Linked DNA regions of Homo sapiens: region 2 is linked to region 1. The links come from fine-mapping of genetic effects on gene expression. A gene starts in region 1. The other region holds a variant in brackets. All regions are shown on one strand. Distances are between the middles of the regions. Region 1 holds the start of SNX10-AS1 (SNX10 antisense RNA 1). Region 2 overlaps LINC02981 (long intergenic non-protein coding RNA 2981).

Region 1 (5,378 bases):
ACTGGGTATCAGTAAATAAAATATGCTAAATATTGCTGAAAATAAACACTAAGTAACTCAATTTGTGTCATTATATGTGAGGAATGGGAAAAGCTTCTTGGAAGAGGTGATATTTAATCTGGACTTGGAAAGATCGGTGATATTTGAACAGTTGGACATGAAGTTCAAGGGCATTCTAGAGAATGTCATGGGAGAGGAAATGCAATAGCATGATTTGGGGATGTACTGTAGTAGACAAATAAGGCTGGAGCTGGGTTAGGTGCAGATTGTGGAGGGTCTTAAATGTCTTGCTAAGGGAGTGTGGAGTGCCTTTCCTCAGCAGTGGGGAACAGAGATATTTGAGTTAGTTACTGTGTATTGATTCCAGATAAACGAATAAAGCATATAGTATGTATATATTTTTTATAGTTTTTTTGGTATATTTTCATGAAAAGTGTGTATGATTTTAGTGAAACCATAAAAATCCATTTTCATTCCAATTTAGATTCTGTTTTAAAGTAGTTGCCAAGGAAACTAGTAAGTGACTGGTTATGCCCGATTTTCCCTAAGTTCAAAATTAGATGCAAATTCTTCAAAGAGACTACTTGAAGGCCAGTAAACATTTCAAAGGCAGTCAAGCTCAGACGCCTGGGTGTGTGGGTGCAGGAGGGTTAGAAGGGGGGTTCTGATGTTCCTGGAGGGAAGAGATGCCTTGCCTGTGTAGGCAAAGAGCTACTTTGAGGGAAAAAAGCTGAATGAGTTAGAGGTGAGTGCCCAGGAAGAGAAGCTGGAAGTGAGAGGTTCCACTGAAGTGCCTAGAAACAGACACTCTTTAATGGAGACAAGACCAAATTTCTGGAGTTTTCCTTTGTTTACATCTTTTTATCTTGTCTCGTTTCAAAAAGGAGTTAACTTTAAATATGTCCCTGAATAAACACGAGGCAGCATGACTCCATCGCAGGTAGAGATAGGACTAAAACATGATTCTCCTAAACTTTAACCCTGGAGTTAGCTCACTTAATCCTGTAAATCTCTGCAAAGACTAACTTTGTTCCCTGGCTCCTCCGTGGTTGCCAGGTGGTGGATATACATTCTACAACAGAAGAAACTGGAATCGCTAGAGGTGTCTTTTTTTAGGGCAAGGAAGCATTTCCCAGAAAACCCCAACAGATGTCCCCTGGCTTGGCCTTGGCCAGGACTGGTCACATGCTCTTTTCTAAGCCAGTGCCTGGGCAAGGGAAGGGGTTGGTCATAACGGATTTAGACTACTTAGGATTTACTTCTGGGCCAAGGAGAGGGAGGGGGTGAGGGAGGGGGTGAGGGAGGGGGTGAGGGAGGGGGTGAGGGTGGGGGCGGGGGGCTGGCCCGGCCTAAGATGGCTGGGGGTGATGCGTTCGGGGGACAAAGGAGTGCTGGACAGTTGTGTGAGCTGTAAGAAGGACCCGGAAAATACTGCAGAGTGATTGAGAGTGTAGAGGGGCCTGGGTTCTCACCTGTGCTCCCTCCCACCTTAGCTGGGTTATGCTGGGAACCTTTCAAGGCTTTGCTAAGCCTGGGTTTCCAGGAGTGCAATAAGATCGCTGTGATAAACATGTAGGTAAAGCAGTTGGCATAGTACCTTGCGTAGAATAGTCCTCAGCATATGTTTACTACTGTCGTTGTTGCTATTAATAAAAGTGACCTAGCTCCTCTCCTCGAGAAGTTCACAAGGGGCCCAAATGTGACAGGGGGAGCTATCAGAAGGCGGGAGGTGACTTCTTGCCAGGGAGCAAGCCAGGGCAAGAAGAGAGGCGCCGTGAAGCCTGCGTTCCCTCCCGCACGCGGCTTGCCTCGGTGGCCACACGGGGAGCTCAGCAAGGCCCAGGGTTCGGGAGGCGGGTCCTGCACAGCGACGCAGCCTTGTCCCGGTGGCCGCAGGCCTGGGGAGCAGGGCGCAGCACACCCGCCGCCCGCTTGCAGGCGAGACGAGAGCGGGGCGCCGGGATGCTGGCGTCCAATTTAACCACCAGGGCGCACGGGACGGAGGCCGGGGGTCCCGCTTTTCCGTCAGAGTTCGCGGTCACGAGTGGAACCCACTGAGCACTCTAGTTTCCTGGTATTTTCATGGCAGTAATTGGATGACAGAGTCAAGAGGCAGGGCCTGCGCCGACACTGACTAGCAACGCGCGGCCTCTGAGCCGCGCCCGGCCGCCCACCCCTTCCTCCTCCAGCACCGGGCCGGCTCCCCCTCCCGGCCCGGCTCGGCGGCTGGGGGGTGGGCGGAGCCGCGGCCGGGCAGTTCATTATGTTGGACAGGGCGCGTCTGCGCCTCCGGCCGCCGCGGCTCCCGGGGCCTCCGCCTGCAGCCGGCGGCGGAACGAGGGCAGGCGGCTGAGACAGGCGAGCTATTTGCATTCCCCGGCAGTCATTTTTATATGCGGAGGTAATGAAGTTGTCAGCGGCGCCCCGAGTGTGGCAGAGCCTGATATTCAAATCGCCCTGCCCGCTCCGCCTGCTCCCGCCCGCTGGTCCCGGGAGCCCCAGGCTGCGCGCGCCCGCACCGCATCGCCGCTTTGCCCCGCGACCGCGCGCGCCTCCTCGTCCTCCCCCGCGCCTTTGTTTCCGTCTCCTTCTCCTTTCCCTCCTCTTTTGTGTCGGGCCAGACTCAGCCCCAGAAACCAGCCACCCTGCCGCGTCCGACTGCCAGGGATCCCTCACGCCGCGAGGTGAGCTGGTCGCAGGTGTGGGGAAGTTCGCGGGTGCAGCTAGGCCGCCGCCCTCGCGCTCGACGCCACGCCCGCCTCCTCTTTCCTTCCCCAGGGGCCCCTTGCCCTCCCTTCACCTCCGTCTCCAAGAAAGATGACCTAGTACTGCCATTACCGTTTGGGCCTAGAGGAGTTTTCGTTCCTCTTTCCGAATGCATATTTGTGGTCATTTTTTATGATTGCAGAAACCCAACACACAGCTATTCTGTCAGGCTGCCGAGAAAAGGCTGTTCGGCAGTTGCAGCCCTGGTGAGGCAATGAGGAGGAAAGGTGGACGCACCTGCCTGGAGTGGTTGAAGGAAGGCAGTGAACATCCACGCTCCTGGGGTTGGTTTTCCTGAACCTCTGTAGCTGTGCTGCTCACTGGGGCAGCCACTGACCACAAGAGGCTGCCGAGGGCTTGCAGTGTGGCCAGGCCAGACCAGGATGTTCTCCAAGTGGGAAATACACACCCCATTGTAAAGAAGACTGTATGGAAAAAAGAATGTGAACTGGCTCATTCATCATTTAAAAACATTGATTGCATATTGAAATGATAATATTTTGGGTATATGGGGTGAAATAAAGTATCATGAATTAAATCTTTTTTTAAAAATGTGGCCACAAAGAACATTTAAATTTACACATGTGGTTCACATTATATCTCTGTGGGATCGCACTTAAGACCCAACCCCACCCATCCTCTAACTCTGCCCTCTCAGCTTGCTCTACAGGTACTTTGGAACAGGGCAGGGATGGAGGGAAGGTCCTTGTATCTTAGGGATCAAATGCCCAGGAAAATAATTAGGAGGTGTTTGGGATTATGCTGAAAACCCTGACAACACTGAATAGCAGATGTCTCTTTCTTTTCCCTTTGTTCACTGTAAAGAAAAACTTACACTCCCCCACAGCCATGCCACAATTCCATGGACCAACCATTCATGTGTGAAGGTGGGCCTCTAGGAGTGTTTTGTGCCTTTTAGGAGTTATTTGTGGCACACTAAACTTGCTGACATGCCATTTAGAAAAGTGAATACTGTGTACGCACTGTAACAACTATTCCATAAGTATTTTTGGTGTACACTGTTCCTCAGCACTCACAGGCTTCGGAGTAGGGGCTCCCGGAGTATGCATTGACACGATGCGCTGCAAATGATCCGGGCGTGGGGAAGTCCCCGAGTGTGCATTGATTCCACACACGGCCACGGCTCCTACAGGGCTTTTATGGTGCAGCTCGCCAATGATCCGTGTGTTAAAGACTCCCCAAATACACATTGACACGATAGACTGGAGTTGTTTGGGTCTATCGTGGCAATGATCCGGGGATAATGGCAGTGTCTTATACAATTTCACTGAGATTGGAGTGCTCATGGTCCTAATGGCAGAACCGGAACTGCCCCAGTTAAGTCCCACCATGGCGCCCAGTAAAGGGTGTGTGGGTCTTTGACCTTCTGCTTCATGACACTGTGGCATTGCTAATTTTACTGATATTTTAACTAACATAATTGAGTTAGCATTTTTTTCCCCCTGAAAATTCATTTTTGTAATTCAACACCTGAATTAGGGAGTCCATCTAGTGATGGTTTCATTTGGTTAATCATAAGCTAAAGACCTAGGAAAGGTCATTCTTAAACCTAAAGTGTTTTGGGAAAAATAATCGTGGGAGATGCATATGAGCTTGAGACAGAGTTAATATGGAATAAATAACCTCAGTCCTGAGAAAACCTAGTTGGCTAGGCTGAAATAGACAAGATGAGAAGGTGGGAAGAAGATGTTTTTAAAAATAATGAAAGTAACATATTCAATAAAAATAATTCAAACACTGTAGAAGTGTATGAAATAAAAAACAGAATCCTCCCACTCCTTCCTTCCTTCTTTCTATACCATTCACTGTTACAAGCACTATTAATATTTTTGTATATTCTTCCAGTAACTTAAAAACACATGCAAATATATACAGTCATGCATCTCTTAATGATGGGAATATGTTCTGAGAAATGCATCGTTAGGCGATTTCATCATTGCACGAATATCAGAGAATGTACTTATACAAACCTAGATGGTGTAGCCTACTACCCACCTAGGCTATATGGTATAGCCTATTGCTCCTAGGCTACAAACCTGTACAGCATGGTACTGTAACAGAATACTGAAGGCAATTGGCCAGGCACTGTGGCTCACGCCTGTAAATCCCTGCACTTTGGGAGGCCAAGGCTGGCCTTCAAGACCAGCCTGGCTAACATGGTGAAACCCTGTTTTTACTAAAAACCCCAAAATTAGCTGGGCTTGATGGCATACACGTGTAGTTCCAGCTACTCAGGAGGCTGAAGCAGGAGAATCACTTGAATCTGGGAGGTAAAGTTTGCAGTGAGCAGAGATCATGCCACTGCACTCCAGCCTGGGCAACACAGCAAGACTCCATCTCAAAAAAAAAAAAACAACACTGTAGGCAACTGTAACACAATGGTGAGTACTTATGTATCTAAATGTAGAAAAGGTACAGCAAAAATACAGTATAAATGGTAAAAAAAGAAAAAATACAACTGTATAGGGCACTTACCATGAATGGAGTTTGCAGGTCTAGAAGTTGCTCGGGTGAGTGGAGTGAGTGGCGAGTAAATGTGAGGGTCTAGGACATTGTGTATACTAGTGTAGGCTTTATAAACACCGTACACT
Region 2 (5,378 bases), 59 kb after region 1:
TTGCATGACTATCTACACATTATTGCCATTATGAAGATAAGGAAAGTGAGGCTCAGAGAGATGAAGTGATTTACCTGAGGTCACGCAGGTATAAAGGATGGCGCTAGCACTCAAACTTGGATCCCCTGACTCCAAACCCTGGAATAAAAAGAGGGACTATTTCATTCACTTAAACCTAAAGTAAAGTTTCAGTTATGCTTCTTAAAGAAGATCCAGTGGCACTGGACATTTTCCAGAGCAAATCAACTAAAATGAAAGTGGGAATGCAGAAGGCTTATCAGTGTGGGACAGACTAACTGGCTAGGCTCTTTAGTCTGAGCACAGTGAAGTGTGGACAATATGGGACTAGGGTGACCGTGGATCCATTCACCAGCTCCTGAGATGGCAAAACTGTTGACCTCGGTAAGGTCAGGACTGGTAAAAATACTTTCTCACAGTAACTTCAATATACTTAAGAAACTCATTGTCAAGAGATGATGCAGGATAGAAAAGGTTTAGAAAAAAAGATGTTGAGAGATTCATAACTAGGCTGACCATATCATTCATCATCATAACTGATTTGACAGAAAGAGGGTCCTATTAGTAATTGCCCTAGGTCAACAGGCATAAAGACTGTCCTGGGCAAATTAGGACATTTGGTCCCCCAGCCTATAATAGATATAAAGGAAACTGGCATGTTTGGGTGGTGGGGGGTGGAGAGGCACATCGATAACATTAGTGAACATCTGTTCAGGCACTGGCCAGGCAAGTCATGGTGAATGTCTTAGGGCCTGGAACCCCTACTAGGAGAGTCAGATCTTTGTTGCCCCTTCAGGTGTTCCTGGCCCTTGCTGCTAATTATAATAAATAAGAACAGTAGCGACCATTTGTTGAGCACTTACTACACACCAGGCACTGAGAAGTGCTTTATGTGAAAAATTTCATTCAACAATCCTAGAAGGAAGGCACTATTCCTCTCTCCATTTTACAAGTGAGGAAACAGAATCTCAGAGAGGTTGAGTAACTTTCCCAAGGTCACTCAGCTGGAAAGTATTGGAGCTGAGAGTTGAACCCAGACTCTCAACCATGATGTTAACCAGTCTTTACCTTTTCTCTTTTGGGTTGCAGGCCATTTCAAGGACCCAGGTGTCTGGCATAGGATGAGTGTATGGTTAGACAGCACCAGAGTGGAAATAGGGGAACATCAGTGGCATCCCAGCCTCCATGTCAGCCTTGAGCCCACACTAAGAGACACACAGAAGCATAGAGTGACTGCTGGTGACTGCTCAGAGTAGACATGACCCTGGTTTTTGGCCCAGAGCAGCACCAGCTTCCAGAGCAAATCATGGAGTGAATTATCCAACAGCTTTGTTTTGTTTATTATTGCATTGTTTTGCTGTGTGGACAGACAGGAATCTTGACCCTCCAGATACCTGGGTAATGTTCCTATAACCACCCAGGTCATTTTTGGGTCAGGCAGCCCACATTCAATTCTTTTCATCTTTTTCCATCAGTCAATCCTTAATTATTTTTATTGCTTTTCTCTGAACTCTCATCAATTTGCTGGCATATCACTTTTCGGGTGGTGAGATACCAGAAGTGTTCTTCAGAGAAATTATAATCTCCTGTGCATGATGTAATGCTTTGGCTTAGGCAGTTGAAAATCACAGCAGCAATTTCAGCTGCTATTGGTATCATAACCCGCGATCAATTTGGTCGTCTCCAATTAACTTGACTTTTTTTTTCAGTGAAGGTAAGTACATGGCTCAAAGTCAATATAATTTATATCTGAACTATTCCAAGGATATGTATATATGTATGTGTGTGTGTATTAAAAGCAAAAAAAAAATGAAGCAAGTTCAGGAAGCAAAAAAGAATGTCTGGTCTTTGCTCATTACTGATCACCCCCGATGTGCCAGACCCCAGCTGCTAACTAAGCTCAAGAAGAATCTTATCTTGAAATGTTTAGGACATTTTAAACATTTTCTTCATTAAAAATTACTCTTGTTTTCCTTGACACCCTTTAATGATTACATTTTTACTCTCATGTTCCTATTTGTAGATTGAGAGCTTTCTCTTCTAGTAACAGTGACCCACTGTGACTCAGGTTATAACTATCTGTGGCTTGATTATTTTGAAGTTAATTATGCTTTGGCATGAATAATTACATTAAGCAGGTTATATTAGAATACTCACCATGTAATATTCTTTTCTCATAAGTAAAAATGGAAGACTGAGTTAACTTGGAGTTGAAAGAAATTAATTTGAACAATTTGCCGTCCCTCAGATTTAAGCCACTTTGGTTACTTCTTTTTTCCAAGTTGACTCATTTTTTTCAAGTCTATTTGTCTTTAGAGCAGCTCTCTTTTCTTTTCTTTTCTTTTGTTTTTCTTTCTTTCTTTATTTCTTTTTTAACCTTGTATTATTTGCACAAAGATGGCGGTGTGAGTATTAGTTCCAAAATGATGGCATTGTCTCATGACAATCACAGATGCAGTTTTAAAGTTCTGGTATTTAGCACGTAATAAAAAACACCAGGAACACACAGCTTCTCTGTGAGGGATGGCTCACTGGTGTACAGAGTTGAATCACACAGAGCTGGATCTGGTCACCCAT[C/T]GTTTCTTGTCCAGATAGTGGCTTTGAAATGGCCTCTCAGAAAGTCAGAGATGACCTCAGGCCTGTCCACAGCTCCAGCAGCTGTTTCCTGCCTCCCAGCCATCTCATGATGGGATGCAGATCTAGTTGATGTTTTCAGCCCGCACGGATCACTTCCTTTTGTAATTTAGACCCATGAAGGCCTTCTCAAATGGTTTTGTTCACGGTGTAAGAAGTCATTTTCTTCCAAGAATCTACCTATGTTTCAGAGTTGGCCTCATTTTCTGCAAGGTCAGCTTTACCTGGGGGTGGCAGAGAGATGATTCAGGATGTGGATTTCATTAGTGCATTTTGTTTAAAAATGAATACAGATCACGTTCTTTGATGTGTGTCTTTAGTTGAAAACACCACCACCACCACCGTCACCAAATGCTACCCTAAAAACTTCTCTGTAAAGTCATGACAATATCCTCTTCTTGCAACTCCCCTGACTTTGTGTCTTTCTGTAATATACAGTATAATTTATAAAAGTGTGAGCAACTGTGGAATTGTTCTCCTAATAGATTCTGAAGATTCCAATTTCCATTCTGCCACACAAGACTGAAAATCCACTTGTGCTCACTTATCTGTATCTGTACCTCATCCCCACGCTGCATCAAAAATCAGGTTCAGGTGCAGGTTAAGAGCACGCATTTACCTCCAGAATATGGGACTTATTAAATATCTCTCCACAATTAACATCACCGTATCAATAAGAATTATCATTAGGTCCTGTCAATCAGGTGCTGAATTTTGCTTCAGGGAAACAAAACAATTTAAATTATAGCAAGTGCTCCCCTTCTTTTTTACTTGCTTCTCTTTAAATTGGATAATTATGTGGCTTTTCATTAGATTCCTCTAAGCATAATAGATCACGATATTCACCCTTTGACCTTGGTGATGAATGTCTCTGGTGAAAACATGTGACAAGCAGTGTTCTAATGAGAACAAAATACTGGATAACTGGAAATCTTGTATAATGAAAGGAGGAAGCAGGAGGGAAACATAACCTTTAAGGTTGATGCACAAAATATATTTGTAATGAGGCAATAATATGGGCTGGGGAGAAAAGGGGCTAGTTTTGTTTCTAATAATGTGGATGGAAATGATGATTTTTCTCCTTTGGAATGTGAAAAACAATGGAGAAACAGACATTTCAGGAAAGCTGTGCATCAGAAAATTCTGATCTCAACTGAATTGTAAGCACAGATGGAATGAATCTGCTGGCCTAAGTGGGGATTCAAATGACTCGCTGCGACTTGGAACACCTGCACATGGCAGTGTGAGGGTACCTCTCATTTTATTGCTTTCTTTATGGGAGTTCCAAATGTAAGGACAGCTTAAAAAGGAAACAATTTGGTCTCAGGGGATCTATAATTGTATTGGGGCTGTCAAGAAAGGACAAGGGAGGCAATGGGACACCCCCAGTACTTTCCAACCTCCCTCTCTTGGTTAGTCCCTGAACAACCTGCCTTGTTGGAGCTGGGACACCACCTACATCTTCAAAGTCCTCTTTCTGTGGTGTGAAGAGAGGTTGGGGCATCCTAAAGGTGGCCCTGAAATGTAGCCGGAGGTCAGGGAAAAGCCAATGACCTCTAGCTTCTTCTTCTTGGTTCCTCTCCCAACCCCCTGCACACCTGGATTTCCTGGATGGCTACTTATTGGGCTGACCCAGGCACAGCTTTGCTCCTTGTGGTGATGGATGGGGGATTTCCCATCAAATCAGCCCTTGGTACTGTGATTTGCTCTGGAGTTATGGAGACAGGTAGTTTGCTTCTTTTAGATTTCTTAGATGCTTCTCTGTCCATTTAGGATATACAGCACAAGGGTAGCCCATTGTAAAGCCATTCATCAAGGGTATGGATTTGCTGTATCATCTAAGGACATGGGTTTGTGGCAGGAGCTACTTGTTAAATGCACAGGCTAGGCTGTGCTTGTTTTAGAGTGGAAGAAAGAGAGCTGGAAACCACCACTTATTCGGCACCCATTTTGTGCCAAGCACTCGCCCAGGCTCTTGATACATGCTCTCTGATTGAATTCTTCCATCAAACCTTAGCCTACTTTATGATTTGGAAAATGGCCCAACCTGACTCAGAATGACCTGACAGCAAAGCTGGGGTTTAATTGCAGGTTGGCCTGACTCCTAAGAACATGTTCTGTAGGTTAAAGGTAGCACAGAATGTAACACTTTTACCGTCTCCCAAGAACCATGCCTTTACTGTAACGTTATCCCCAGCTTACCTTTCCAGGTCTTGATGGAATCGATTTGGATTATTTGGACTTAATATTATTACCATCAATCTTGCTAGTTGTACAGTTTATTTTGTTTAACAGAAGACATGCAAGAGAAGAAACAGCTGCCTCTATAAGTTGATTTCTTCCGGTGAATTCCAGTTTGGAGGAAGAATTTGCAGGGAATGATGTATGTGCTTACAAAGGATTAAGAAACTAACCAGGCTCAAAACCATGGTTCCCTTTGTTTATCTGCAGATCTGTCCTGTTTAAGGTAAAATTCACCCTGGGCCCTCGCCCCTGACCTCCACCAGGTGACTTTTCATGGAGACATTCTCACTGCCAGCAATCCTTCAACTCTTTCCACAGAAGTCTGCCAGGAAGAGAAATGTCCAAAGTCCATTTTGAGCTCTCAGCCTGGGATTTAGCTGCAATTTTTCATGGACACTGGGCAATTACTGGCATACGAAGCCAAGGAGAAGCAAGAGAGGGAAGGCCCTGCTTCTCTAGTGAGATCATCATCTTTGCATCAG

The links. PIP is the estimated chance that this variant, and not a neighbour inherited with it, causes the effect.
Region 2: its variant is the best candidate, but not a certain one, in a credible set for the expression of SNX10-AS1 in prefrontal cortex (BrainSeq, PIP 0.71).

The regions. Positions count from the first base shown.
Region 1 is chr7:26,396,338-26,401,715 of GRCh38, forward strand. It overlaps SNX10-AS1 (SNX10 antisense RNA 1), which reads right to left and starts at 3,081. Exons shown (of 2, transcript NR_136272.1): 1 at 3,004-3,081. LINC02981 (long intergenic non-protein coding RNA 2981) reads left to right here and starts at 2,232. Exons shown (of 5, transcript NR_148502.1): 1 at 2,232-2,684. RefSeq lists enhancers at 1,368-2,324, 1,399-1,638 and silencers at 2,109-2,568, 2,659-2,768.
Region 2 is chr7:26,455,263-26,460,640 of GRCh38, forward strand. All of the region lies in intron 1 of LINC02981 (long intergenic non-protein coding RNA 2981), which reads left to right. Among named protein-coding and RNA genes, the nearest start is that of SNX10-AS1, 59 kb to the left of the region's middle. The variant C/T (reference allele first, on the strand shown) is at 2,596.